7 linked regions of the Homo sapiens genome follow. The protein of the gene in region 1 purifies or fractionates together with the protein of each later gene. This does not show direct contact. Each region holds a gene or a part of one and is shown in the gene's direction. Other genes may lie near its edges. The genes, in order: CD244, CAND2, PDXDC1, CARD19, IMMT, TSPOAP1 and POMT2.

Region 1 (4,008 bases):
AGTGTATACTGCTCGGGTGATGGGTGCACCGACTCACAAATCACCTCTAATGAACTTTCTCTTGTAACCAAACACCACCTGTACCCCAATAACCTATGGAAAAATAAAAAAAAAAGATACCATTCCATCATCTGCTTTTTATTATTTTTGCTGAAATGTCAGCTAAGTTGTTTGTTTTGTGAAGGGAATTTAGTTTTCCCCCACTCTGGCTATTTTACGATTTTTCTATTTATCTTTGGTTTCCATAATTTTTTTGATGTATTGAGAGGTTGTCTTTTGTTCATTGGTTTGTTTTTTTTCTTTTTTTTTTTTTGAGACAGAGTTTCACTCTTGTTGCCCAGGTTGGAGTGCAGTGGCGTGATCTCGGCTCACTGCAACCTCCACCTCCTGGATTCAAGTGATTCTCCTGCCTCAGCCTCCCAAGTAGCTGGGATTACAGGTGTGCACCACCATACTTGGCTAATTTTTGCATTTTTAGCAGAGATGGGATTTTGTCATATTGGCCAGGCTGGTCTCAAACTCCTGACGTCAGGTGATCCATCCACCTGGGCCTCCCAAAGTGCTGGGATTACAGGCGTGAGCCACCGTGCCCAGCTTGTCGGTTTGTTTTGATCTTGCTTGGGGTTTGTAACACATTTTACAAATCTATCTTGATGGCTTTTGTCAGTTTTGGGAAATTCTTATCTTTTATCTCTTTTGCTTAGTTCCTCTTTCCTCTCTCGTCTCCTTGCTTTCCAATTACACTTAGTTTAGGGGTTTTGTTTTGTTTTTGCTATATCTCAAATATCTTTTACACTCCTTCTTGTGTATTTTTATCCTTTTGTTTTTCTTTACTTCACTCTGGATATTTTATAACAGTTTTCTAATTCTCTTTTCAATGGCATCTAAATGGCCTTTTTAACCTTTCAATTGAGTTTGTTTTACAGTTATTTTACATTTTATTTCTGTAATTTTCATTGAATTCTTTAAAAAAAATCCAATTTCAGGTAACTATTGCTGCATAATGACCTACTCCAAAATCCAGTAGTTTAAAACAACTACCTATTTAGTTAGTGATTCTGCTAGTTGGCAATTTGGGCTGGGCTCAGCTAGGTGGTTCTTTTGGTTTCCTCTTGCATCAGTCATGCATGTGTGGTCAGCTGCCAGACTGGCCACGGGTGGCTGATTCATTTATTTATTTTTTATTGTTTTTTGAGATTAGGTCTTGCTCTGTCATGCAGGCTAGAGTGCAGTGGCATGATATCTCGGCTCACTGCAAGCTCCATCTCCCGGGTTCAAGCAGTTCTCGTGCCTCAGACTCCCAAGTAGCTGGGGTTACAAGTGTGTGCCACCATGTCTGGCTAATTTTTGTATCGTTAGTAGAGACGAGGTTTTACCATGTTGGCCAGGGTGGTCTCGAACTCCCGACCTTGAGTGATCTGCCGGCCTTGGCCTCCCAAAGTGCTGGAATTACGGGCATGAGCCACCGCACCAGGCCAGGGCTAGCTGATTTAGAATGGCCTTAGCTGTGTTGGCTTATCTCTGTATCATGTGATATCTTATTCTCCAGCAGGCTATTTTAGGCTTGTTCACAGGTCAGCCAGATGAGGTTCCAAGAGAACAAGTAGAAATGTGCAATGCCTTTTCAGATCTAGGCTTAGAACTAGCAGAACATCATTTTTGCTGCGTTTCATCATGAAGACCAGCCCAGTTCCAAGAGACAGGGAAATGAACCCCATTTCTTGATAACAGAAGGAGCTGTAAAGTCACATTGCAAGGACATGGTATTTTTGCATTCTATCACGCTAGTTCTCTGCTGAAATTCTTAAACTTATGTTTTATTTCCTTGAACATATTAGACATGATTACTTTAAAGTTTATGACTGACAACTCTATTATGTAGATGCCCTGTTTGTTGGTTTCTGTTGTCTCTATTCTTCTGTTGGTTTTTGGAGATGTTTCCTTTTCTTATACTTCACTTTGGATATTGTGTATGAAACATTCTAGGAATAATTTAATGCTCTGGTTGATGTTATTTTCCTCTAGTCATAACTTATATTTGCCTCTAGTTGGCAGCCAGGTTAGGGCTACCAGAGATTCCAGATCATTAGTTCAATCCAGGGTTGTGATGATTCAAAATTGAGCTTCAGTTCCTGTGAGGGCTGTTCATTTCTCGTTCACTCTTACTCTTTGGGTATAGCCCTCTGTGGTACCAACCTCAACACTGATGGATTTTATGTATACCCGCTTTCTAATAGGAGGGACGTGAACTTCATGTTCTCTTAGTTCCTTGAGTTTTATTGTGAGCTCTGCTCAGCTTCTCAGCCTTTTAGCTGCCATTTATGGAATCAGAAGATGCCTCCAGGGAACAACAGTCAGAAATGCTGATCTCACCTCTCTGAATTTCCTTCTTCCAGATATTGGCCCCATAATTTTTCACTGCTTTATAAACTCTCTGATAACTTTAACAATGTGCTTTTACATGTTGTTCATTTTTCTTCTAGCTATTTTTAGTGGGAGGATTGGTTAGCATGTCTTAACCTGGATTTTCATTACATAATTAGAATTCCTTCGATGATTTTTTATCTCAACAATTAAGGGGATGCTGTAGAATGAAAGTGTTCTGTTTCCAGATCACAAACTCTCTGGAGTCAGGAATCATGCCTTATACATGAAGAGGCCCTGCCTCTTCAGGGGCTGGATTGCAGTGGGACTCAGTAAGGACTGAATAATTGATGAAGACAGTATATGTCCTCCTTGTAGGTTTAGTAATGATTTTTTCCATTCACCTTTGTTCTCAGGGTCTTTGTGCAATATTTGGTAGGTTGACTTGTTCTTATAAATAGTGCTAGGATCGTAGGAGACAGAGACACAGAGATGCACAGCACAGTCTCTGCTTTTGAGAAGCTTTTGGTTTGCTAATGGGCAGAGCCAGTACAAGTCATATAAATATAAATGGGAACCTATGTGTTTTAGTCTTAGGAGCATCAAGATCAAAGAAACATATTTCATCAAACAAATAGTATTACAAGTCCTTTAATTATTTACTTAGTCTCTTGAGAAAATGCCAGGGTGAAGCTGTGGCTTGGAGAGACTGCATTCATAATGCACTGGACATATAAAAACCCCTCTGTCTCAATTGCTCTCTTCTTAATAGCCTCCATTTTAACGGAGCCACTTGTAAAACTCTCCCCATCTCTTATTTTCTCTTCCAAATCCTCCCTGAGCCTCCCCAACTCACCCAGAGAGACTTTTTAATTTCCTGCACCTGCTGGGCCATGCCACATAGCTTTATTACTAAAAATGGCTGTAGGAACTTCCAGTTTTGTACACTGACTGCACAGAATTGCTCTAGGTTGTCACACCCCCATATTCATTAGGTTTCATCTTGATTCTTTGAGAGGCAAGTGCTGGGATCTGCCTGGGAAGTGTAGTTTTATTTTTAAAATTGTTTTCTAGGGAGAAATTTTTGTGGAGACTTTCTGATCACTGAAAAACTGGCAAACATCAATAAGTAATGACCAAAATCCAATGAACCAAGTGCCACGAGAGAGGATTATGTATTCAGCTCTGTGAGAGGATGGTTGAGGGGCCATGAGTTCAGCTTGGACGGTTAGTCTTCCTGGGCCTGACCATTCAGAATTTCCAACAGTCACTACTTGCCATTAGTAGTTGCCTCAGCACTGCTTGGAGGGAGTCACCTTAGATGTGGTATTTATAGCATCATGGTTAAGAATTTATCCTCTCAAGCCAAACTGCTGTCTTTACAAAGAGTAAACAAATAAGCTCCCTAGCACCTGTGCTCCCAGCTACTAGGGAGGTTGAGATGGGAGGATCACCTCAAGCCCAGGAGTTCAAGGCTGCAGTGAGCTGTGATTGCGCCACTGCACTCCAGCCTGGGTGACAGAGTGAGACCCTGTCTCTAGAAAACAAAACAAAAGAAAACAAAAACATAACACCAAACTGACTAGGTTTCAGGCTCATCATTCTTTTAACTCATCATACCTTTTAACTTAAATAGTTAAAATG
Region 2 (4,008 bases), on another chromosome or scaffold:
CAGCCCTGGACGCCCTGGCCCAGAGCCAGGGCCTCAGCCTCCCACCGTCTGCCGTGCAGGCCGTGCTGGCTGAGCTGCCTGCCCTGGTCAACGAGAGCGACATGCATGTGGCCCAGCTGGCTGTGGACTTCCTTGCCACAGTGACCCAGGCCCAGCCAGCCTCTTTGGTGGAGGTCAGTGGCCCTGTGCTCTCAGAGCTGCTGCGGCTGCTGCGTTCGCCCCTGTTGCCAGCCGGGGTTCTGGCAGCTGCTGAAGGCTTCCTGCAGGCCCTGGTAGGGACCCGTCCCCCGTGTGTGGACTATGCCAAACTCATCAGCCTGCTCACTGCGCCTGTTTATGAGCAGGCTGTGGATGGTGGGCCTGGCCTGCACAAGCAGGTGTTCCACTCATTGGCCCGGTGTGTGGCAGCCCTCTCAGCTGCCTGTCCCCAAGAGGCGGCAAGCACAGCCAGTCGCCTGGTCTGCGATGCCAGGTCGCCCCACTCCAGCACGGGGGTCAAGGTCCTGGCATTCTTGTCGCTGGCTGAGGTGGGTCAGGTGGCTGGGCCAGGCCACCAGCGGGAGCTGAAGGCGGTGCTCCTGGAAGCTTTGGGGTCACCCAGTGAGGATGTGAGGGCTGCAGCCTCGTATGCACTGGGCCGTGTGGGTGCTGGCAGCCTGCCCGACTTCCTGCCCTTCCTGCTGGAGCAGATCGAGGCTGAGCCCCGACGACAGTACCTGCTGCTGCACTCACTCAGGGAGGCCCTGGGGGCCGCCCAGCCTGACAGCCTGAAGCCCTACGCCGAGGACATCTGGGCCTTGCTGTTCCAGCGCTGCGAGGGTGCTGAGGAGGGCACCCGGGGGGTGGTGGCCGAGTGCATTGGGAAGCTGGTCCTTGTGAACCCTTCGTTCCTTCTGCCCCGCTTGCGGAAGCAGCTTGCTGCAGGTAGGCACACAGGTGTGGGCAAGGCAGCCCACCTCGGAGGTGGGCAGTTTGCCACTGAGCATCCAGGCAGCTGGGGCAGAGTGAGCTATTTCAAGTCACTGGATACAAGAATCACGGTATCTATACGACAGAGGCAAGGAAGCTACAGAGGAACACACAGTGATACCTGAGACTTAAAGCCTTCCTCCTATGGGACTGTGGGATAGAAGGGACAGAGTCCTTGATTGGTCCCTACAACAAATACATTTAAAAATCTCATGATGTTGGCTAGGCATGGTGGCACATGTCTGTAATCCCAGCACTTTGGGGAGGCTGAGGTGGGTGGATCACTTGAGCCTAGGAGTTTGAGACCAGCCTGGGCAACATGGTGAGACCCTGCCTCTACCAAAAAAAAAAACAAAACAAAAAACCTCATGATGCCAACTTCATAATCCTTGATGTGGACAGTAGCTTAGTGCTCCACACAGAGGTCAACAAAAACAGTTTTCCCAGTAGCCGTAGACTGCAGCCTGCAGAGGGTCAGCTCTTTCGGCTAGCCTGAGCCAAGAGCAGACGTCAGTATAGACGGGGACAGGCTGACATGCCCCCGAGGCTTGGAGAGGGCTGGGCAAGAACCAGGAGGGGCAGGCGTTTTGGCTTGTCGTGTTTTGGCACACCAGGTGTCTTAGCTTCAGGAGGTGGAAAGCAGACAGGTAGGGTCATCAGGCTCCTAGGAAAATGAGAGTTCCCAGAATGAAAGGCCAGTGGGCTTCGAGCTGGCCAGCTGGCCCCTTACAGAACCAGTGGATGCTCTGCTTGACAGAATGCAGGTACAGTGTTTGGTAACCTATGTGGTACCTACAGTAATTAATACTGAGTAAATCAAGAGCTGCTGTTGTTACTAGGTAGGTTAGTGATTTCAGTTAAGGCCTTCTTGGGTTGCTGGGTTCGTAAGAAGCAGTTGTCTGGCCTCAGGACTGGATGGAAGAACATTGTTGAGGACACTGTCTATTACATCACACAACCTTGAGAGACGAGAGTGTTAAGATGCAGAGGAGCCCTGCTTTGCCTAAACACCTATTTGTTTCTATCTCACGTGCACTGTTGAACCAGCCACCCGGTCACATTTCCTTTTTAGCACCAACTGCTGGGAAGCTTAGAGCCAGATGAGTGGTCTGCTTCTAGTAGGTTCCTGGGACTTCCTTATTGATGCTCTCTGTACATCTTCCTGCTAGTCTCCTTCTCACCTCCCTGCCTTCAGTCGTCCTTGGCCTTGTTCTTGTTTTCAGTTCACTTAATCTTACTCTCTTGTGCCTGTCTTCATCAGCCACCCTAAATCTTCCTGGGAGCCAGTCAGGCTGGCAAGGGAAAGAGGTAAAAGCTGAAAGTCTGAATTCAGTAACTCTTCCATTCATTCATGCCTTAGCACCAAATGGTAAACTTTTCCTCGAGGCTGAACATAAAGCCTGTGGGGTGGAAACACCTTAGCCCATTCACTGCATTGTGCTGGGGTTGGGCAGGGAGCAAAGGGGGCGAGCCACTGAGGAGAGATTCAGACGCAGGTGGAGCGTCCACCCATTCGTTTCCTTCATTAAGGGAATGTACTTCCCCTCTTTACTGGGCTTCTCTACTCAGAAAGCAAGCGGCAAAGCACAAGTAAGCAAGCTCTCTGTGACCGAGCCTGGAGGTGATCCGAGTTCTGTTAGGCCTCCCTGACCACCAGCCAGAACGCAGCCCCAGGAAGAGGGGCCCAGCCAGGAATTCTGGATCTGCTGTGTGGCCCTAGACATGAACTTAAACCCTCTGAGTCTCTCTTTCCTCATATGTCAAAGAGATGATTTTTATTGGTGATTTTATTGGTTCTTTTAATACTACTTTATTATTAATAGGATCATTGTTAGGACTCATTGAGATAACATGTCTGAAAAATCCCAAGGCCTGAGGGAAGGTCTTTGTTGGAGCAGTTCCTGTCTTGGTTATTGGTTCCCTGTTTGCAGCCTGTGGTGTTACCTGAGCACTGGCAGTCCTACTGTTTCAGCTGCAGCAGGAAGAATTGAGGGGAGATTCAAGGCTGCCAAGGGAAATGGTAGAATCCACTTTCCCAGAGATGGGGAGGGGGTACAGTTCTGTTTTCCAGGGAAGCAGGGGGAGGAGCCTAAGCACCTTCTGATCTGTGAGCCTCCAGGATTGGCCCCTGCCCCTCACTAACTCACCTCTTCTTGTCCTGCAGGTCGGCCACACACCCGGAGCACCGTCATCACAGCGGTCAAGTTCCTTATCTCGGACCAGCCCCATCCCATTGACCCCCTCCTGAAGAGCTTCATCGGTGAGCACCTACCTCTTGCCCCTCCACCTTGTTCAGTGCCCCCACCCAGTCCTTGAGCTTGGGCTGATGTTTACTACCCAATAGCCAAGGGCAATGGGAGACCCGGGAGGTGTGCCCATGATGGGCAGCAGGGCCTGGCCCTCCAGTTAAAAGGCCTGGGTTCACATCCCTGCCTTCCTACTGCCACTCAATCATGGGTGGGTGTGGCATGCCCATCACACCTCTAAGCCTCGCTTTCCTCATCTGTCAAATGGGCGTGAGAAACTCTTATTATCTGCATTTTCTAGAGTTGTCCTGGAAGCCCATGGGCAACTGAGGGAGAAGATGCTTCATCAACATATAGACTCTTGGGAATGGAAAACCACCAGCCTCTCACATGCCTTAGCTTTTGCGGGCCCCAAAGTGGGGCAGGGAAGAGTGCTCCCCCCGGCCCCGCCTGTCCACTAGATCGCCCTCTGTCTGAGGGGCCTTCTGGCCTGAGGAGCCCAAGCAGCCTTCACTGGGAGGAGAGGAACTGAGACCTCCCTCTGGGGCTCGGCAGGACCACTGGGTTTTTCCTAGGAAGGCAGAGCCCTCGCCCCTTCAGAGCTTGGAGCCTGCAGCCCCTCACTGGGCCACACTGGAGTCTCAGCCCACATCTAGGCAGGGCAGCCCAGTAGAGAGAGGTTTTGGAGCTCACCTGCCTCAGGTTCAAATCCTGGCCCTGCTATTCCCTGGGTGTGTGAGTGTGGACAAGTCTTCTCATCCTCAGCTATAAAATGGGGGTGCTGGGCCAGGTG
Region 3 (4,008 bases), on another chromosome or scaffold:
ATTTTCATGAAAACTACAGTCCGAAACGCCTTAGCAATTTGCTGATAGTTTGCGGTGATTAAACCAGGGGTTCCCAAATGCCAGTCCCTGGACCAGTGCTGGAATGGCTAAGAAAGAGTTGCTTGAACATAAAGATTTGTGGGTCTTACTTCCCACATATTTTGAGTCAATAGGTTGTGCCCAGGAATCTGTATCTTAAAGAATGACCCAAGTGCCACCAGTCTAGTCCAGGGCACCACTCTTTTTTTACCTGGTTGGCCATTGTCCCCTGTCAACTGACCTCTGACTTTCATACATTCTACACAGCCCATTCCAGACCATTCTCCACCTGGCAGAGAGGGTTATAAGTGGAAGTCACATGGTGTTGAAACCGGAAAGGTTCCCTTGTCCCCCTCGCAGGGCATGTGATGGGGGTGTGGCTCGCTTCTTCAGTGCCCCGCTGCTGCTCAGACCTCTAGGAGAGCATACAGACGGGCAGGCTGTGGGGCTCCGACCCCATGGCAGCATCTGGGGGTGAATGTTTTACAGCTCCTAAGGCTCCAGCGGGCATGTGTTACAGTGTGCTCTTTTAATTTAGCCGTCTGTAGGCAGCTTGTTTTAGCTCACTTAGACCCCCTTCCTTATCACAAGGACAGAGGGATTAATGTATCCCAGGTTCTTGTCTTGGTGTACCGGAAGAATGGGATCACATGTGGGCTTGGAGAATGAGTGCAAGGTTTTATTGAATGAAAGTAGCTCTCCGCTGATGGGGGAGCCAGAAGGGAGACAGATTTCCCTTGGAGTTGGGCCGCTCAGCGGCCCTGGCCAAACTCCGCCTCGTCCCCGTGGTTGATGGCCTGCTGGCTTGCCGGGGCCTGTCGGGGTGCTCTTCTGCCGGCCTGCTCTCCATGACCAGCCGCTTGTGTCTTTTTCCACCAATGTGTTCCTCTGGCCATCCAGCCACTTCTGTCTGCCCACTAGGGTCTCAGGTTTTTATAGGCCCAGGATGGTGGTGTGGTGGGCCAGCGTGGTCTTGGGAAATGCAACATTTGGGGGAAGGCAGGAGTGCTTGTCCTCACCTAGGTCCGTGGGGGTAGAGTCCTAGCCAGGGACCCGCCTTTCTCTCCCCAGCACTTCCCTTCCCCGCTTCTGTGTCATTTAAAGGGACCACGCTCTTCCCTTCCCAGCACTCCCGTATCAGTGTCACTTCCCTGCCCAGAGCCCCTGGGTATCTTACCATTTCGGTCGAACAAAGGCCAGGCTCTCCCATGCCCCATGAGGCCTGCACACTCTGCCCCGAATTCGCTTCTGCCTTCCCCCCTTCCACTCTCCCTCTTGTTCGTTGTGCCTCAGTCAGACCAGTCTTCTCCGCGCTCCAGAACACTCTGCCCTTTCCTACCGCAAGGGCTTAACACTCGGCGTTCCCTCTGTCTTACACACATTTCTCTCTTCTGGTGCCAGCTCCTCCTCACCATTTCGGTCTCCACTAAGTATCCACATCCTCAGCCTTCCCTGCCTATCGTGCCTGAGGGGACTCCATCATTTTCTATCAGAGCCCCCAGCTTCACTTGTGACACTAACAACCACATGGAGTGATTTTCTTTCTTTATGGTCTGTTTCCTCAACTAAAATGTAAGCTCCAAGATGACAGAAACCTTACCTGCCTTCTGTCCCAAGTGTCGGGCTCTGTGCCTGGCACGGGTTGGCACCCACTGTGAGGCCTAGTTAGATGATCGTGGCACTCACAGACCTCGCACGGTGCTTGGTAAACTAGTTAGTAACTTAAAACAATTGCTGTTTCCCCTTGAAATCCCTTGAAAGCAAACCTTTTCAAAAATGAAATTAATAATTCTGTCTTATGTGAATGTATTCAAGTGTTACATAGATCACGAGGAAAAAGAAATGTAGCCCTTCTGTCAGATAATACATGAGAATTCAGTAATACGAGTCAGTGCCCTGGGGCTAATATTGGGATGGGAATGATGTGGGGTTTGGAGGGTGTTTTTTTTGGTCAGCCGTGTTTCTGGGAGTGACTCCCTTTCTGTGTTTTGGTGTCAGATCCGGTGTTTAAAGCCGTCCCAGTGCCCAACATGACACCTTCAGGAGTCGGCCGGGAGAGGCACTCGTGTGACGCGCTGAATCGCTGGGTGAGAATGGCAGTCACCCCCCTTTCCTTTCAGGTCCCCGTCCATCACCATCCGACCTGCTGGTGAGGGTGACGCGTGCTCGTGTATGGGAACTGAGGCCCACAGGAGGAGCCGCCCTGCCAGTGCTGGGCCTGCTCTGGAGTTCTGTTCCCCATTGCGTTACCACCTCACGAGCTGGGTCACCTCTGGCAAGTCCTTCTGGCATTGCTCCCTCACTTTCCTTGCTGCTGTATAAGGCTGTGAGACAACAGGCAAAAGGTGGGCTGCAGGGCAGCTGCGGTGGGTTCTGGTGAGCCTGGGCAGCACAGCCGGGAGCCCCAGGCAGAGTCTGCCGAGCATCTGCAGCTGGCAGTGTGGAGCCAGGCCTGCACTTTGATAGCGTTTTGGGCACTGAATAGCAGCTCTAGGATTTGAGTCTGAAGGGTCTTGTGAACAGTGTGGGATGGCGGCAGCAGCAGTTCTAGCCAATGCTGGACACGCCCAGCCTAGCAGGGTTGGCAGATAAGTCCTGGTACATCCATGCTGGGGCTCAGCACAGCTGTGAGAGACCACAGAGCTGAGTGTCTCAAGCAGAAAGGAACTGGTCATAAACGAAATGAATCAATGCAGGTTACTAAGCAGTGTCAAGTAGCATGTTTTATGACAACAACTACAACTCCCTGCCCGCCACTAGGAGAAAAGACGCTGGGGGCAGACCACATGTCAGCAGTGGGTGTCGCTTAGTAATATATTGTGGGTCATTGTTATTTTCTTCTTTTTGTTTACTTGTATTTCCTAAATTTTTCTACAATGAACTTGTATTAATAAGAAAAAACCATAAAATTTACTGTTTTTAAAAAGCTGCTCTAAGTAATCAGACAGTCAAAAGAGCAGGAATCAGCTCTCCAGGAGGCTCTTTGGTCTGGGGCCGAGGGGATGAGGGTGGGTCCTGAAGACGTCTGAGTCCCTTGTTACAGGAGGGTGTTCATTGTGTCCTCCTCACAGCTGGGAGAACAGCTGAAGCAGCTGGTGCCTGCAAGCGGCCTCACAGTCATGGATCTGGAAGCTGAGGGCACGTGTTTGCGGTTCAGCCCTTTGATGACCGCAGCAGGTAAACCAGGCTTGGTGGACATCCCTTGCTTTTGTTCTGGGGCTGCTGGGTAGATTAGCTTGCCCTTATGATACTCCATTCTCCTAGAGTTATTAGCAGCTCTTTTTGGAGGGGCATTTTCTTTTCTTTTGGGCTAAATTTAGGTAGATTAGCATTCCCATGTAACTTACCAGAATCAGAATGAGAATTCAGAAGTCACCTGAATTGGCCGGGCATGGTGGCTCACACCTGTAATCCCAGCACCTTGGGAGGCCAAGGCAGGCAGATCATCTGAGGTCAGGAGTTCGAGACCAGCCTGGCCAACATAGTGAAATCCCGCCCCTACTAAGAATACAAAAAATTAGCCAGGCATGGTGGTACACACCTGCAGTCCCAGCTACTTGGGAGGCTGAGGCAGGAGAATCACTTGAACCTGGGAGGCCGAGGTTGCAGTGAGCTGAGATTACACCACTGCACTCCAGCCTGGGGGACAGAGGAGACTCCATCTCAAAAAAAAAAAAAAAAAAAAAAAAAGTCATCACATGAATTCCTTTTTTGTTGTTGTTGAGACAGGGTCTTGCTCTGTCACCCAGGCTGGAGTGCAGTGGTGCGATCATGGCTCACTGCAGCCTTGACCTCCTGGGCTCAAGTGATCTTCCCACCTCAGCCCCCGAGGAGTTGGGACCACAGGCATGAGCCACCACACTGGACTAATTTTTGCATTTTTTGTAGAAATGGGGTTTTGCCACGTTGGCCAGGCTGGAATTCCTATATTTTGATGTCTTGTGACTCTCGATTTTCCACTACAAGGGT
Region 4 (4,008 bases), on another chromosome or scaffold:
GGTTCAAGGAATTCTTCTGCCTTAGCCTCCTGAGTAGCTGGCTCAGCCTTCTGAGTAGCTGGGAATACAGGCGTGTGCCAGCATGACCAGCTAATTTTTTTTGTATTTTTAGTAGAGATGGGGTTTCACCATGTTGCCCAGGCTGGTCTTGAACTCCTGACCTCATGATCCATCTGCCTCGGCCTCCCAAAGTGCTGGGATTATAGGCGTGAGCCACCGCGTCCGGCCTGCAGAACTCTTTAGTGAGCACCTACTGGGTGCTCAGCCAAGTGGGCAATGCTGGAGAGGACAGCCTTGGGCGTGCTTTTGGACTGGCAGGGAGTAGACTGCTGTAGCTGATTACAGTGAATTTCCATGTTAATTAGAGAGGCAGAACGTCTGAATATCAAGAGGTGGTCCTCAACATGGCTGTGCCTGGGCCTGGATCTTGATCTGTCACTTCATATCTGGTTGCAGTCTTGGGCAGGTACCTTATCTTCTCACTGTGCCTTAGTTTCCCTACCTGAAAATGGGGCTGGTGGTTGTCCTTATGTTGCAAAGCTGTTGGAAGGATGAAGGTTGTAGGTGACGTAGGGCTCACAGAGTGCCAGACATATGGGATTGCTCTGTGAATTTTGGCTAATTCATCTTAGTTCTTTAACGAGAGGGCTGCAGGCGCTGGACCCAGACTGCCCAGCTGGGCCTGTCCATGTGGCCTTGGCAGGTCACTTGACGTCCCTGTGCTCAGCTTCCTCACCATGATGGGGCTGCTGGCAAGTCCGCATAGGCTGCTGTGGGACTCAGTGCAGGTGAGGGCTGAGCCAGCCTTTCCAGCCCCCAGCCATCTGCCTCCCTGCGCGGCCCACGGTGAGTGGCTTCAGCCAGATGATGGAGTGGCTGATGGCCTCAATGTGGGCATCATCAGGGGCCCTGTGAACCAGGATGGCCCCCCTATTGTTCTCTGGAGGGCAGGTATCTCTGGGGTTAAGGATACGTTTGTGGGTTTGCTTGGTGAATGCCAGCCCGCACCCCTACACTGTGAGCCCCTGGAGGATGGATCTGCCCATCACCGTGGTCCCCAGCCCCGCACAGGGCGAGCGTACTGAGACGGGCTGTTCTCACCTGGGCCTCAGTCTGTAGGGTCTGCACAGGGCCCCACGGAGCATGGCTGCTTTTGGGGTGGGTCCACATTCTGGGGTACAGAAAGACCAGCCAGGAGGAAGTGGCAACTGGAAAGAGACATGACAAAGTAAAACAGTCTGTTGAGTCTGTGCCTCAAGGAGTGAACCCAAGAGGGGGCCCCACTGTGTTCAACATGATGACACTGTTTTTGTTTTTGTTTTTGGTTTTTTCTTTGAGACAGAGTCTCACTGTTGCCTGGGCTGGAGTGCAGTGGCGCACTCTCGGCTCACTGCAACCTCCGCCTCCCAGGTTAAACGATTCACCTGCCTTGGCCTCCCAAAGTGCTGGGATGACAGGCGTGAGCCACCGCGCCCAGCCTTCATTTCTTTTTAGCACTGAATAATATTCGTTGTATGGATAAACCAGAGTTTATTTATCCATTTACATTTTTTGTGAGAAAATATATGGAAACATAACATTTACCTTCTTACCCATTTTTTCAGTGTACACTTCAGTGATACTAAATACACTCACAGTGTTGTGTAGTCATCACCACTGGCCATTTCCAGAACTTCTTTATCATCCCAAACAGAAATTTTGTACCCGTTAAACAATAACTCCCCTTTCTCCTTCTGCCCACACCTCCTGGTAATCTGTATTCTATTTTCTGTCTCTATGAATTTGACCCCTCTAAGTACTTCATATAATTGGAATCATATAATATTTGTCCGTTTGTGCCTTGTTTATTGCACTTAGCATAATGTTTTCAAGGTTCGTCCATGTTGTAACATCCACGTATCATAATTTCCTTCCTTTTTAGGGCTGAGTAATATTCCATTGTACATAGGTATATACCACATTTTGATAATTCATTCGTCTTTTGGTGAACATTTGCACTATTTCCATCTTTTGGCTATTTTGAATAGTGCTGCTATGAAAACCAGTGTGCAAGTATCCATTTGAGTTCCTGCATTTATTTATTTATTTATTTATTTATTTGAGACAGAGTCTCACTTTGTTGCCCAGGCTGGAGTACAGTGGTGTGATCTTGGCTTAGTGCAACCTCCGCCTCCTGGGTTCAAGTGATTCTCGTGCCTCAGCCCCCTGAGTAGCTGGCACTACAGGCGAGTGCCACCACGCCTGGCTAGCTTTTTGTATTTTTAGTAGAGACGGGGCTTCGCCATGTTGGCCATGCTGGTCTTGAGCTTCTGACCCCAAGCGATCTGCCCACCTCAGCCTCCCAAAGTGCTGGGATGACAGGTGTGAGCCACCACCCTCGACTGAGTTCCTGCTTTTTGTTTTCTAGGGTACATACCTAGAAGTAGAATTTCTGGATCACACGGTAATTCTTTTTTTTTTTTTTGAGACGGAGTCTCACTGTCGCCCAGGCTGGAGTGCAGTGGCATGATCTTGGCTCACTGCAACCTCTACCGTCCGGGTTGAAGCGATTCTCCTGCCTCAGCCTCCCAAGTAGCTGGGATTACAGGTACCCGCCATCACACCCAGCTAATTTTTGTATTTTTAGTAGAGACTGTGTTTCACCATGTTAGTCAGGATGGTCTCGATCTCCTGACTGCATGATCTGCCTGCCTCTGCCTCCCAAAGTGCTGGGATTACAGGTGTGAGCCACCGTGCCGGCCATCACAGGATAATTCTATGTTTAGATTTTTGAGGACCTGCCATACTGTTTTTTTCCACAGTGGCTGCACTATTTTACATTTTCACCACTAATGCCAAAGAGTTTGAATTTCTCCATATCCTCACCAACATTTGTTATATTAATATATAGCTATCCTAATGAGTACGAAGTGATATCTCATTGTGGTTTTTATTTGAATTTCCTTAATGACTAATGATGAGCATTTTTTTTTTTTTTTTAATTTGAGACCAAGTCTCGCTCTGTTTCCCAGACTGGAGTGCAGTGGCGCCATCTCGGCTAACTGCAACTTCCACCTCCTGGGTTCAAGCAATTCTCCTGCCTCAGCCTCCCAAGTAGTTGGGATTACAGGCACGCACCACCATGCCCGACTAATTTTTGTATTTTTAGTAGAGACAGGGTTTCTCCATGTTGGCCAGGCTGGTCTCGAACCCCTGACCTTAGGTGACCTCAGGTCATCTGCTCCCCTTAGCCTCCCAAAGTGCTGGGATTACAGGTGTGAGCCACTGCACCTGGCCTGATGAGCATTTTTTTGTGTGCTTGATGGCTAGTTGTATATTTTCTTTAGAGAAATGTCTATTCAAGTTCTTTGCCTATTTTTGAATTGGGTTCTCTGTGTCTTTTGCTGTTCAGTTGTAGGAGTTCTTTATGGAGTAAGGATACTAATCCCTTATGAGATATATGCATTGCAAATATTTCTTCCATTTATGTGAACTGTTTTTTCACTTTCTTTTTTTCCACTCTTTTAATTAAAAATAGGGTTTAATTCTAGACTCTCTTATTCTATGCCAGTGACCCATATGTGTGTCTTTATGATAGTACCACATTGTTTTCATTATTGTATATTTTTACACTAAGTTTGGAAAGCAGGAAATATGAATCCTCCAACCCTGTTGTTGTTTTTTTTTTTTTTTAAGATTTTTGTTGTTGGCTATACAGGTATCTTGAAATTCTATATGAGTTTTGGGGTGGGTTTTTCTATTTCTGCAAAAAACACTTAAGATTTTGATAGGGATTGCATCGAATCTGTAGATTGCTCTGGGTAGTGCTTGCAGCAATGTTTTGTGGCTTTCAGTGTACAAGATTTTTGCCTTCTTGATTAAATTTTTTCCTAAGTATTTTATTCTTTTCAATGCTATTATAAATTGAGTTGTTTTCTTAATTTTTGGATTGTTCATTGTTAGTATGTAGAGATGAAATATTTTTGTGTGTTGATTTTATATCTTGCAACCTTGCTGCATGCTTTTAAT
Region 5 (4,008 bases), on another chromosome or scaffold:
TGTTTAAAATGAAGAAAGCTGATGGATTTGTTGAGTTTATAGCCACAATATGTAAAAGGGGCTATAGTGTCCTAAACCTTGTTTCTCCCATTTGAAATACATTACCCTTCTTTAAATAATTTTGAAAAAAAAAAACACTTTTTATTTTGAAAAAGTTTAGATATACAGAAAAGAAAAAGTAGGCTGGGCACGGTGGCTCACGCCTGTAATCCCAGCACTTTGAGAGGCTGAGGTGGATGGATCACGAGGTCAGGAGATCGAGACCATCCTGGCTAACACGGTGAAACCCTGTCTGCTAAAAATACAAAATATTAGCTGAGCGTGGTGGCAGGCACCTGTAGTCCCAGCTACTCAGGAGGCTGAGGCAGGAGAATCGCCTGAACCCAGGAGGCGGAGGTTGCAGTGAACTGAGACGGTGCCACTGCACTCTAGCCTGGGCGATAGAGTGGGACTCCGTCTCCAAAAAAAAAAAAAAAAACAAAAAACAAAAAACCGGGCACGGTGGCTCACGCCTGTAATCCCAGCACTTTGGGAGTCCAGGGTGGGCGGATCATGGGGTCAGTAGATGGAGACTATCCTGGCTAACATGGTGAAACCCCGTCTCTACTAAGAAATACAAAAAAATTAGCTGGGCGTGGTGGTATGCACCTGTAGTCCCAGCTACTCGGGAGGCTGAGGTAGGAGAATGGCGTGAACCCGGGAGGCGGAGCTTGCAGTGAGCCGAGATCGCGCCACTGCACTCCAGCCTGGGCGACAGAGCGAGACTCTGTCTCAAAAAAAAAAAAAAAAAGAAGTGTAATAAAGCTTCATAGATTTATCATCCAGACTAAATTATCAGTATTTTACCATGTTTTCTTTTTTTTTTTTGAGAGAGTCTCGCTCTGTCGCCCAGGCTAGAGTGCAGTGGCATGATCTCGGCTCACTGCAAGCTCCACCTCCCAGGTTCAAGCGATTCTCCTGCCTCAGCCTCCCAGGTAGCTGGAACTACAGGCACCCGCCACCATGCCTGGCTAATTTTTGTATTTTTAGTAGAGACGGGGTTTCACCACATTGGTCAGGTTGGTCTCAAACTCCTGACCTTGTGATACGCCCGCCTCGGCCTCCCAAAGTGCTGGGATTACAGGCATGAGCCACTGCGCCCGGCCTTTACCATACTTTTAAGTGAAACTTTGATTCCCTAAATTTGAGTCTCATGTATTTTGTTCCTTTTTAAATTTTTTGGGAAATGCAATGGAAGACTAGATAGGAGAACAGCAAAAGTTTAAAGTCATTTATGGGGGTAGGATTTGTTTTTTAACTGTTCTTTTTTTTTTTTAAGCTCTAGCCAAGAGCTTAGAAGATGCTCTGAGGCAAACTGCAAGTGTCACTCTGCAGGCTATTGCAGCTCAGAATGCTGCGGTCCAGGCTGTCAATGCACACTCCAACATATTGAAAGCCGCCATGGACAATTCTGAGGTGAGCCCAATGAATGATTAGAAGTGTTCTGGCTGTCATGACTTGGAGGACAAAAAGAAAAATCGAGGGTGGAGAGAAGTGTAATATTTAACAGACTGCTTTCTTCCGTATGATATCGGCTTTCTCTCACTAGGGGAAGATAGTCTGGAATAATTAATCTTTTTTTGTTATTGTTTTGAGACGGAGTCTTGCTCTGTCGCCCGGGCTGGAGTCCAGTGGTGCGATCTCGGCTCATTGCAACCTCCACCTCCCAGGTTCAAGCGATTCTCCTGCCTCAGCCTCCCGAGTAGCTGGGATTACAGGCTCCCGCCACCATACCCGGCTAATTTTTGTACTTTTAGTAGAGACAGGGTTTGCCATTTTGGCCAGGCTGGACTGGAACTCTTGACCTCAAGTGATTTGCCTGCCTCGGCCTCCCAAAATGTTGGGATTACAGGCGTGAGCCACTGTGCTTGGCCTTAGAGTAATTATGTTTAAAAAACAAACTGAAAAAAGCCTTTAAGTTTTTTAGAATGAATTTTATACATTGTGCTTTACTATATCTTACAACACCGATGCAGCGCAAGAATTAGTTCAGATTTGCTTTCATATTTTAATAGCACTTAAATATTTTTGTTGTTTGCTTTAAAATTGCTATTTCCATAGGTAAACTTTTTAAGATACTTCTCAAACTTCACATGCAGTTTTAAGAAATAATACAGAGAGCTCTCATGTTCCCTGAAACACCTGCTATTTTAAATGTTTATGATTATTTATGCGAAACACTTCAAAGAATGAAGTAATAACATTGATTTTTCAAAATTTAATACTGGGACTTAATACATTATTTTATAATTACATTAAGTTATTCAGTATGTATAAATGTATCTCTATTCCAAGTCATTTAAGGAGTAAATTAAAGTAAAATGCATAAATTATTAATCTTAAGGATCAGGATCATACATGGTCAGTAAAGTTACTTTGCCATCATAATTGTAGTTTTAAAAAAAATTTTACACACACTTTACATTGTTTCAGTCGTATGTACTTATATTACAAAAGAGTTTAATTAGACCTCTGATGTTAGTAGCAAGAAACTACAACCTTTGAAATTTTAAGGAAAATTCCATTTTATTCAAAGTCCAAGAAAAATACTTAAATATCAGAGTTCAGTCAGCAAAGTGGAAACCACCCAGGAAATTTAATTTGCTGGTTACCGATATGGGAAGGCTAGAAGTTGCGTGATGTAAGGGTGTTGGGTTCAAACCCAAGTAGACCAGTATCCCTCAGAAGGACACGGATTGGAAGCTTTAAATGCCATGTTACTACTTGGGTATAAGGGTACACAAGGTGGTATTTCATCTTCCTAACGCACATAATGTGTAGCACATGGTGATTAGACAGTGTAAAATCTATTGCAGTCAAGATTTTACAATCTAATGGTAGCAGTTAACAGATGAGAGTATTAGCTAATGTACAAAATAATTGGAAAAATGTATGAACACATTTTGGAATGTTAAGAATGAATTCCAGCTTTTGTTTTTTCTAGTACAAGAAGCTACAGGTGCACATGTAATTTCTAATATATACTGAATAACTTTCACAAAGCAGTGTTTGTGAAGAGTTGGATTTGGTAATACTAGGATTTAGTTTGGTTGTAGGGGAATCTGTGTCTGTTACAGGGTAGGTTTTCCTTGGACTTCTGTAAGCAGGAGTACCTTCAACAAGGGTGATAAATTTTGGCCCCCAGATATGTCATTGACATTTACATGCTTTGTAATTCTATTTGGGTCAGTTCATGTGGCCCAACTCAGCATCCATTCCTTTTTTTTTTTTTTTGAGACAGAGTCTTGCTCTGTCACCAGGCTGTAGTGCAGTGGCGTGATCTCTGCTCACTGCAACCTCTGCCTCCCAGGTTCAAGCAATTCTCCTGCCTTAGCCTCTCAAGTAGCTGAAATTACAGGTGCCCACCACCACACCTGGCTAATTTTTGTATTTTTCGTACAGAGAGGGTTTCACTATGTTGGCCAGGCTGGTCTCGAACTCATGACCTCAAGTGATCTACCTGCCTCCACCTCCCAAAAGTGCTGGGATTATAGGCGTAAGCCACCATGCCTGGCCCCAAATCAGTATACATTCTTGATGTATTTTATTTTCAAGATGACTAAAGCGGTCCAGGCGTGGTGGCTCATACCTGTAATCCCAGCACTGTGGGAGGCTGAGGCTGGTGGATCATTTGAGGTCAGGAGTTCGAGACCAGCCTGACCAACATGGAGAAACCCCGTTTCTACTAAAAATATAAAATTAGCTGGGCATGGTGGCCCATGCCTGTAATCCCAGCTACTCGGGAGACTGACGCAGGAGAATCGCTTGAACCTGGGAGGTGGAGGTTGTGGTGAGCCAAGATCGAGCCATTGCACTCCAGCCTGGGCAACAAGAATGAAACTCCATCTCAAAAAAAAAAAAAAAAAAAAAATGACTAAAGTGGGAATTCACTGAAACATCAACTTTATTTTTCGCATCATAAGATATACTTTGCAAAATTTTACATAGAACATTCTTTTTTTTTGGAGA
Region 6 (4,008 bases), on another chromosome or scaffold:
GAGCTCATCTCAGGGTATAGAGCTGGAGTGGGGGCAGGGATGAGACCCATCACAGTGGCAGCCCCAAATTAGCAGCATCCTTTGATCCTAAACTCAGATGTAGAGTTAATCCTTTCCAACTGCTGGGATGGGGTAGAGTGAGGCTGCTGGTTTTCTGAGACCCCAGTCAAGGTGGAAGCAGGTGGCTACCCCCCTAGGTTTTCATGCTAACTCCTCCTTTGGGAGGAGATGAGGAGTGGGAGAAGTGCCCCAGCCCTCAGGTGACCATTGGCCTTACCCCTCCTCTGGCTAGGTGAGTGCCCCCTTGCCCCGGCCGGGGACCAGCTTGGAGTTGTGTCGGAAGGCCCTAGCCCGCCAGCGAGCCCGGGACCTCAGTGAGACAGCCAGTGCACTGCTGGCCAAGGACAAGCAGATTGCTGCCTTGCAGCGGGAGTGCAGGGAGCTGCAGGCCAGGCTCACTCTGGTGGGCAAGGTGCGAGGAGGCCCTGGTCACCTCTTCCAGCTCAGCCCTGCACAGGGCCATCTGCCTGTTGTGGGATGCAGACAAGATGTTAATGAGACGCAAATGAAAGGGAGGGTGGAGGTTGCTGGGAGTAGGTTCCCCTGGCAACGGCCCAGGTGGGAGAGGGGAGAAGGGGGTGGAGCCATGAGTCCCAGACCTGGGCATTTCTGTGCTCCAGGCTTGAGGCTGTTTGCCGGTGGGTCTGGCTGTATGCATCCACACATCCCCTGTGTGAAGGGATGTTCACAAGGTATTTAGCACAGTGCTGGGCACATTGAGAGCACCCAAGAAATAAGTTACTGAGAATGACCGCATAGGGGCTCGCGGGAGCATGTGGCCACATACGCATGCACATGTAACCAGGCATGTACCCATGGGAGGGTGTGCACAGTCTCGCGCATCGGAGCCCCTCCAGCAAGGCGAAGGGCTCTGCAGGGGATGGCATGGGGCGGGCAAGGATTAGGCCTGAGTCCCCTCCCTGTCCCTGTCCCCCAACCTCAGGAGGGTCCCCAGTGGCTCCACGTGCGGGACTTCGATCGGCTGCTGCGCGAGTCCCAGCGGGAGGTGCTGCGGCTGCAGAGGCAGATCGCGCTGCGCAACCAGCGGGAGACGCTCCCGCTCCCGCCGTCCTGGCCCCCGGGCCCTGCTCTCCAGGCCAGAGCAGGGGCGCCTGCTCCCGGGGCCCCGGGAGAGGTGAGCGCCGGCGCAAGGGCAGGTGTGTGGGTGCGTGCAGATGGGTGGGGGGAACGACCACCGGGATCTCCCCTGCACCGTGCTCAGAACCCCAAGGACTCAGTGGTGGTGTGCGCACTCCCAGGGGCTGGGGAGCTTTCCCGTCCTGGGCAGGGTCCACCTCCAAGCCTCCCGTGCTCGTACCTGCGCCGTGCCCTCCCCTGGGGGCTCCAGGGTTCCGCCCTCCATAGGCCTGCGCCCAGCGGGGCCTGGCCGGCCGCCCCTGCCGCGCTGCCAGTGGTACGGCCCGGCCGCAAATCCCTGGTTGTCCTGGCAGCCGCCCGGGGCCCAGCCCGCGCCGCCTCCTCCCGCCGCCGCCGTAGAGCGGGGACGCCCCCGTCAGCGCCCGCCTGGCTGGCCAGGCCTGGCCCCAGCTACCCGGGGGCGGCGGTGCGTCCGCCCCGGCTCCAGGTACAGGCAACCCTCACTGAGCGGGGGGCTTAGGCAGCCCCTGTCTCGAGGGCCAGGGACCCGCTTAGGACCCCCAGAACTTAAGGGTCTGGCTTCTCGCCATCATCCTAGGTAGGCAGCAAGTAGGTCCTCCTCCTTCTGGGAAGAGGGCTGGGAGGAGAGACCAGGCAGTGATCTGATAGTGACCAAGACCTCCGGGTGGGGGGAGGCTTCTTGCTCAGATTTTGTCTCCCTGGCTGGCCCTGGAAGGGAGATGCACCCTCCCATCAAGACCTGTCCTCCCCCAAAGTTTGCACGGATAATCGGAAGGTGTGGTAGGGTGGGCTTGGGGGAAGCCAGGAGAAGGGTCTGGCTGGACTTGCGCTGCTCTAGGCCAAGCCCAGATTTGGATGATACAGAACCCCTATCTTGGGGAACACCACATCCCCGGGGGCCCAGGCAGCCTCCTAGTTCTCTGCCAGTCGCTGAAGGACACCCAGGACAGTTATTGAGTGCAGAGCAGGGCTGCTGCTGGAAGCTAAAAAGGGAAAGCTTTGGCCTGGATAAAGGACCCATCTCCCAGGGCACACGTGGGTCCCAGGATCTCAAAGCACTTATGGCTCCAGGACACAGGGGTGCAGCCTTTGTACTTACACATCAGCTGGAGACAATGGGAGGTGGGTGGGCAGACAGTACCCCTCTTTGCTCTTGCTAGGCAGGGATCTCTTGCTGGCTGAATGATGGGGTGGGAACCTGCTCTGGGCAGGCTGGGCTGGGGCAGGCTGCCCTGGGGCCCTGTTCTCAGGTGCCAGCCCCTTGCCCCTGGGCATTTCCAGGCCACGCCCCAGGAGGATGCGGACAACCTACCCGTGATTCTAGGGGAGCCAGAGAAAGAGCAGAGGGTGCAGCAGCTGGTAAGTCCTAGGTCAAGGGCTGGAGGCAGCCTGCTGTGGGCAGATGTACCTTCCCTCATGAGGAGCACTTGGTTCTGACCCCTCAGGAATCGGAGCTCAGCAAGAAGCGGAAGAAATGCGAGAGCCTGGAGCAGGAAGCCCGGAAAAAGCAGAGGCGATGTGAGGAGCTGGTGAGCTCTTGAGGGCAACCCAGAGGCCAGCTCCTCCCTTCACCCCGGCCAGCCAGGTGGTGGGCTCCCTCTCAGCTCTGCTCCCACCCCTGCTGCCCTCAAGAACACATTTTCCCTCCTGCTCCTTTCCTTTCCTGGCTGGTGCAGGTTCCAGCAGGGGAGGAAGGCCTTGCCTGGGAGGAGGGCAGGGTCCTCTGTGTGGGGAGAGGGGGAATGTGGGTGCTGGGCTCCCTCCTGAGAGCTCCTCTGCCCGCTCAGGAACTGCAGCTGAGACAAGCGCAGAATGAGAATGCCCGCCTGGTGGAGGAGAACTCCCGGCTCAGTGGGAGAGCCACAGAGAAGGAGCAGGTACCACTTCCGCCCAGGTGCTGTGGAGACCTGTGCTCCCACCACTGCCCCGGTCCCCAGCCAAGGGGCTTTCTCCTCCACCCCTGAGCAGGGGTAGGGTACTGTTCCCCCTGTGAGGGTGCTGGTGGGTCAAGGCTCACCCACCCAACTCCCTGTCACTGCCCCCTCGCCAGGTGGAGTGGGAGAATGCGGAGCTGAGGGGCCAGCTCCTGGGGGTGACACAGGAGAGGGACTCAGCCCTTCGCAAGAGCCAGGGCCTGCAGAGCAAGCTGGAGAGCCTGGAGCAAGTGCTGAAGGTGAGGAGATGGTGCAGGTGGGAGAGGGTGCTGGGCCCTGGCATGGGGAGCAAGTGGGACAGCAGAATATTCTTAGTGAGGGGCACTAGCTCTGAGGCCTGGGCCTGGAGCTGCTCCAGGCTCAGTTTCCTTTGTAATAGAGGAATCTGGAGCAAATGGTGTTTGAGGCTTCCTCATCTTAGATCTTCTCTAGAAATGGCCAAGTAGGGGCTCTGGCCTTGACTCAGATCTTGTGTTTCAGCACATGCGGGAGGTGGCCCAGCGGCGGCAGCAGCTGGAGGTGGAGCATGAACAGGCTCGGCTCAGCCTACGGGAGAAGCAGGAGGAGGTCCGGAGACTGCAGCAGGTGGGGCGGCAGTGAGGGAAGCTGGCAGGCTGCTGGACACCAGCTTTGCCACTCACTCATTCCACAAGCATTTACTGTGTGCCCGGCACTGTGCTAGGCGTCGGGGAGACTGTGGGGAACAAAGACCAGGTCCCTGAGCAGTCAGCAAATTAGCATCCAGGAGTGAGCTGATTTCAGACACTGATGAGCACAGTGGTGGAGAAGAACAGGGTGATGTGACAAAGTGACTGGGATGGGGTGAGGAGCCACTTTAGAGGTCATCAGGGAAGGCCTCCCTGAGGAGGTGACAATTGACCTTGCCAGCCAGGAG
Region 7 (4,008 bases), on another chromosome or scaffold:
TTTTTGGCTAGGCCTGCTCTGGGAAAAGCAGCCTATGAAGTCTGTTTGTCTCCATCTCTCTCCTCACATAATAACCATGCCATTTACATGCTCTGATACTTAATAAATGTCAAATATGAATACTATTTGGATCTCTTTTAAAATCACATTGGACATAGAAGCCAAGGACCCACAATATGACCCCAGATGAACAACATGTATGTTTATCTTTTGCCAGATCCCAAATTCTCATTAGCTTTATTTTTAAGTATCATTTCCCTGTTCTGCAGAGGGATATTATCCATAGCTTTTGTATTTTACTACCTCAAGGAGATGCAGCTAATAAATAAAAGCTCTATGAGTACTTATGGCTTTGGGAGTAACTGAAGACAAAAACTACTAGTGGAAAACTGTATACAGATTCTGGCCTTCAGGTGGATTTCCCAGCCCTCTTTCTGTTTGCTCATTCCACATTGTGCTAGGTCAAGACTGTGAACATTCTAATCTTCTTTGTGGGCATCTTCTGAGAAGAATTAGACATACATGTCTTAATTTCCAAAGTGCAATAGCCAGGCCAGACCTTTCTGGCTTAGATGAGTGAATACCTAGATAGCCAAGGTAATGGATGCAAATGGCCCAGATCTGTTTCTGTTGGCTCAGAGTGATGTCTTGAGTTTGGTTGAAGGGCAAAGACAGGTATTTAGAACTTGAACTCTAGTTCTATGAAGTGAAGAGTTGGACTCCTGGACTTCTGGTTCCAGGAGTCATACTACTGTTTTTTGGTTGTAATAGTGAGTTTTGGGACAATGCCAATCACCTGGGATATTTCTTTGGCCTTCTTGTAACCTTGCCCATCTCTATCATTGAGCCTAATTTGGTCTTTGACCTTCATAACATGGTGGCATCTGGGTGGCCATTTCCCTTTCTGACACGTTTTCTCTAAAGTCCCCTCACTTTCTTTGTATTTTTTTCTTGGCTTTTATGGCAGAATGGAACAGGGGACTCAAATGATTTCTGGCGGATTGAGGTCGTAAACAGGAAATTTGGAAACCGGATCAAAGTGCTGAGAAGTCGAATTCGCTTCATCCATTTGGTCACAGGTTGTGTCCTGGGCTCCTCGGGAAAGGTTCTGCCCAAGTGGTAAGTCTCTAGGGTTTTGCTGTCCCAATCGAGGGTCCTGATTTTCCTTTCACTCTACAAGGAGTATGCCAGAAGCTTTTGTTTTCCTGTGTTCACCTGCTGTCTGCTTGTTCTTAGTGGCAGATGGAGGGAGAGTAGATATCAGGTGTATTATGGAGCACAGAACTCCGGGGGAGCTTCGGTGTTTTATGTGTTCTGATAGTTCAACATTTTCACATCTGGCTGGTGCTAATAACTCTCTGGGTCTATGTCTTTTTCTAAAATGGGAATACTGTATGCTAGACTATCCTAGGATAGTTGTCCAACATGGAACATGAAGAAATAATGGCCACCATGTGGAAAAGAGAAGGAGCCTGTGGATTTAAGAGCAGAAGACAGTGTCACTCTCTGGTGGATTTCACGTCTTCTGAGAGACATCTGTGACTTCTGCTTTTCACAGGGGCTGGGAGCAGTTGGAAGTTACTTGCACCCCATACCTGAAAGAAACCCTCAACTCCATCTGGAATGTGGAGGACCATATCAATCCCAAGTGTGAGTGAGGTCACTTTCTGGGCTGGCTCTGGAGGGAAGCATTTATAAGAAACCCTTATCTTAGAAAAGTAAGCGTTTGTAAACTGTGCTATCCCTTCAACTTGCTGCTGTTTGTTCCTTGTTAACACTCTCTTTCTATGAGTTGTCTGTACCTACATAGCATACTCCTTTTCCTTCTCATCCACTCCCTCCGTAAACTCCTCTCCCTAAAGTGGCCAGTGGCCATCTGCAGATCCATCTGTCTCGTCTTCCTCTGGGCTCCTCTCTCCCCTGCACCATGGGCACCTCCCCAGCCTCCAGGCTTGGAGCAAGCTGCTACTTTCCCTTTATGCCTCAGTGTAGAGTCGCTCCCCCGCCCCCCCACATATCCAGCCAATGCTTTTATAGAAAGTGACTGCCACAGCCCTGATCTGTGCCCCACATCTCTACACCCAAGCTCCAATTTGATATTTCCACTGCGTTGTCAGCTTCAACTCAATAAGTATTTGGATTCATCATCTGTTTTCCTAAACTACCCACCTCAAGCTTATGTGTGCCTTCATTTTGTTCTTCTTCCCACCTAATCTAGCCAAACCCACTAATCAACTAATTCAACAACTCTTTATCAAGTATGCCAGGAACCACATGGGGCCCTGTGGACATATTGGCGAGGAGACAGACTTGGTCCCCATCCCGACAGCAGCTGCTCCAGGCGTCCAGAATGATTTATTCCTCATTCCCAGGCCCTTCAAAGGGCCACAGTGACTCGGGGGCTGTGCAGCTGTCCCTTATGCCTAATAGGAGAGCAGCATTTGAGCCAGTACCACAGTGAAAAGCAATGGTGCTGGGAGCTGTTGGAGCACCAAGCAGGTGAAACCTTGTTGTCTATTTCCTTTGCATTTCTTAGAATGCCTGATGAGTTCTTCATACAGCTAAGTAAATGATCAAGAATTGGGCCAAGCTTTCTTCTGTCTCCTCAACAGTTGTGAACTTGTCAGCAAGGCTGCATTTGGATTCTGGTGGGAATGTGGACACCATGGACAGACTGAGGAAAGAATGTATGACAAAGGCTTTTCTCCTGCATTTTTTTCCCCTAGTGCCAAACATCAGCCTGGATGTGCTACAGCCCAGTTTTCCTGAGATCTTGCTGGAATCCCACATGGTCATGATCCGGGTATGTGTCCCCTTCTCATTTCATGGCGTCTCTAAGAGCTTTTGGGCAGCCATGAATTTGGATCACAAGTCAATGCCATGCTACAGATCCATTCCCCCTTGTGGAGGAATTTGAAAGCATCTTTACTACGGTTTTCTGTGATCCTCAAAGGCATTTCCCTCACCACAGAATGAGGATGGTGGTGATGATGGTGATACCAGTGACTGCTTGTACAGCTCATGTGCCAGGCACTACGCTAAGCACTATACTCATCTGATACTTATTACAATCATATGGAGGTTGCCATCATTCCCAGTTACAGGAGAGGGAACTGACATACAAAGAGGTCAGGGAACTTGCCCAGGGTCACACAGCTAAGTGTAAGAGGTAGATCCAGCCCTCAGAGCCAGGCTGGTAGGCTTTTAGAGTTACTGCTAGTTACCACTACACTCCTTCACCTCTAAGTGATTTGTGAATCTGCCCAAGTGGCAGAGCCCCTGAAAATCATAGTGCTCTTGGTTGAAGATCATGAGATACTGATAGTTCATTCCATCATATGAAATCAGGATCAGTTAGGATGGATAGCTAATTTGAGTGTGTTGTTTATATGCAGCATGAAATCCCAGCCACGAGCCCACTCATATTCCTGGACAGAAACTGCTTAGGCAGGGCATGATTGATTCTTTTTAAGGTTTTCTAAGACATTGTTTGCACTCTCTATCATTAGTAGCTGACAGCAGTTGTAGCATCAAAGGTTTAAGAAAAATTCAGAGAAGAAATCTTTAAATTGAGAAAATTCTACTCACTAGCTTAAATTTTCCCCTGCTGTAGTCCTGCTGTTTAGTGGAAGACCCCCTTATTCTGGCTTATGGAAAACCTGTGTTCTGCAGGAATAATGTTTAAGAATCACTATCTCAAGCCAGATATGTGATTATCACTCTACCCACAGCATTGCAGGGAGGTGTAGCACTTGTTATTTTTCCCCTGGTAAGCCATTGTCAAGTGGACTTCCCTGGAAGTGATTATGTAAGCAGTACTCAGTACATATAGTTGACTTATTTCACCAGATTAAATTTTAAAAATTCAAATTTTGTCATTTTTGCGCATTGGGAGGTGATAAGTTGACATTAAGCATCTCTGGGTCACTTCCTTTCTGACTCTCTGCTTGTAGCTGTCACTGTGGCCTGATGACATAGCTCTTTTGAACATGTGCCTGTCAGTCAGAA

Evidence for each region.
Region 2: the proteins of CD244 (region 1) and CAND2 purify together in Homo sapiens (affinity purification with mass spectrometry; 3 studies listed by BioGRID and IntAct, with this or other methods). This does not show direct contact.
Region 3: the proteins of CD244 (region 1) and PDXDC1 purify together in Homo sapiens (affinity purification with mass spectrometry; 3 studies listed by BioGRID and IntAct, with this or other methods). This does not show direct contact.
Region 4: the proteins of CD244 (region 1) and CARD19 purify together in Homo sapiens (affinity purification with mass spectrometry; 4 studies listed by BioGRID and IntAct, with this or other methods). This does not show direct contact.
Region 5: the proteins of CD244 (region 1) and IMMT purify together in Homo sapiens (affinity purification with mass spectrometry; 3 studies listed by BioGRID and IntAct, with this or other methods). This does not show direct contact.
Region 6: the proteins of CD244 (region 1) and TSPOAP1 purify together in Homo sapiens (affinity purification with mass spectrometry; 3 studies listed by BioGRID and IntAct, with this or other methods). This does not show direct contact.
Region 7: the proteins of CD244 (region 1) and POMT2 purify together in Homo sapiens (affinity purification with mass spectrometry; 3 studies listed by BioGRID and IntAct, with this or other methods). This does not show direct contact.

The regions. Positions count from the first base shown.
Region 1 is NC_000001.11:160,842,162-160,846,169, reverse strand, and holds part of CD244 (natural killer cell receptor 2B4 isoform 1 precursor), read left to right. Parts: intron 1-4,008. UniProt on the Homo sapiens protein: Heterophilic receptor of the signaling lymphocytic activation molecule (SLAM) family; its ligand is CD48.
Region 2 is NC_000003.12:12,816,953-12,820,960, forward strand, and holds part of CAND2 (cullin-associated NEDD8-dissociated protein 2), read left to right. Parts: coding exon 1-924; intron 925-3,133; coding exon 3,134-3,229; intron 3,230-4,008.
Region 3 is NC_000016.10:15,026,841-15,030,848, forward strand, and holds part of PDXDC1 (pyridoxal-dependent decarboxylase domain-containing protein 1), read left to right. Parts: intron 1-2,037; coding exon 2,038-2,126; coding exon of another isoform or gene 2,127-2,192; exon of another isoform or gene 2,193-2,965; intron 2,966-3,110; coding exon 3,111-3,216; intron 3,217-4,008.
Region 4 is NC_000009.12:93,098,996-93,103,003, forward strand, and holds part of CARD19 (caspase recruitment domain-containing protein 19), read left to right. Parts: intron 1-4,008. UniProt on the Homo sapiens protein: Plays a role in inhibiting the effects of BCL10-induced activation of NF-kappa-B. May inhibit the phosphorylation of BCL10 in a CARD-dependent manner.
Region 5 is NC_000002.12:86,163,955-86,167,962, reverse strand, and holds part of IMMT (MICOS complex subunit MIC60), read left to right. Parts: intron 1-1,318; coding exon 1,319-1,455; intron 1,456-4,008. UniProt on the Homo sapiens protein: Component of the MICOS complex, a large protein complex of the mitochondrial inner membrane that plays crucial roles in the maintenance of crista junctions, inner membrane architecture, and formation of contact sites to the outer membrane.
Region 6 is NC_000017.11:58,321,998-58,326,005, reverse strand, and holds part of TSPOAP1 (peripheral-type benzodiazepine receptor-associated protein 1), read left to right. Parts: intron 1-277; exon of another isoform or gene 278-292; coding exon 293-472; exon of another isoform or gene 473-556; intron 557-1,003; coding exon 1,004-1,195; intron 1,196-2,460; coding exon 2,461-2,538; intron 2,539-2,624; coding exon 2,625-2,708; intron 2,709-2,966; coding exon 2,967-3,056; intron 3,057-3,229; coding exon 3,230-3,352; intron 3,353-3,593; coding exon 3,594-3,698; intron 3,699-4,008. UniProt on the Homo sapiens protein: Required for synaptic transmission regulation. It probably controls the recruitement of voltage-gated calcium channels to the presynaptic membrane, and modulates neurotransmitter release.
Region 7 is NC_000014.9:77,282,592-77,286,599, reverse strand, and holds part of POMT2 (protein O-mannosyl-transferase 2), read left to right. Parts: intron 1-967; coding exon 968-1,119; intron 1,120-1,558; coding exon 1,559-1,650; intron 1,651-2,726; coding exon 2,727-2,803; intron 2,804-4,008. UniProt on the Homo sapiens protein: Transfers mannosyl residues to the hydroxyl group of serine or threonine residues. Coexpression of both POMT1 and POMT2 is necessary for enzyme activity, expression of either POMT1 or POMT2 alone is insufficient.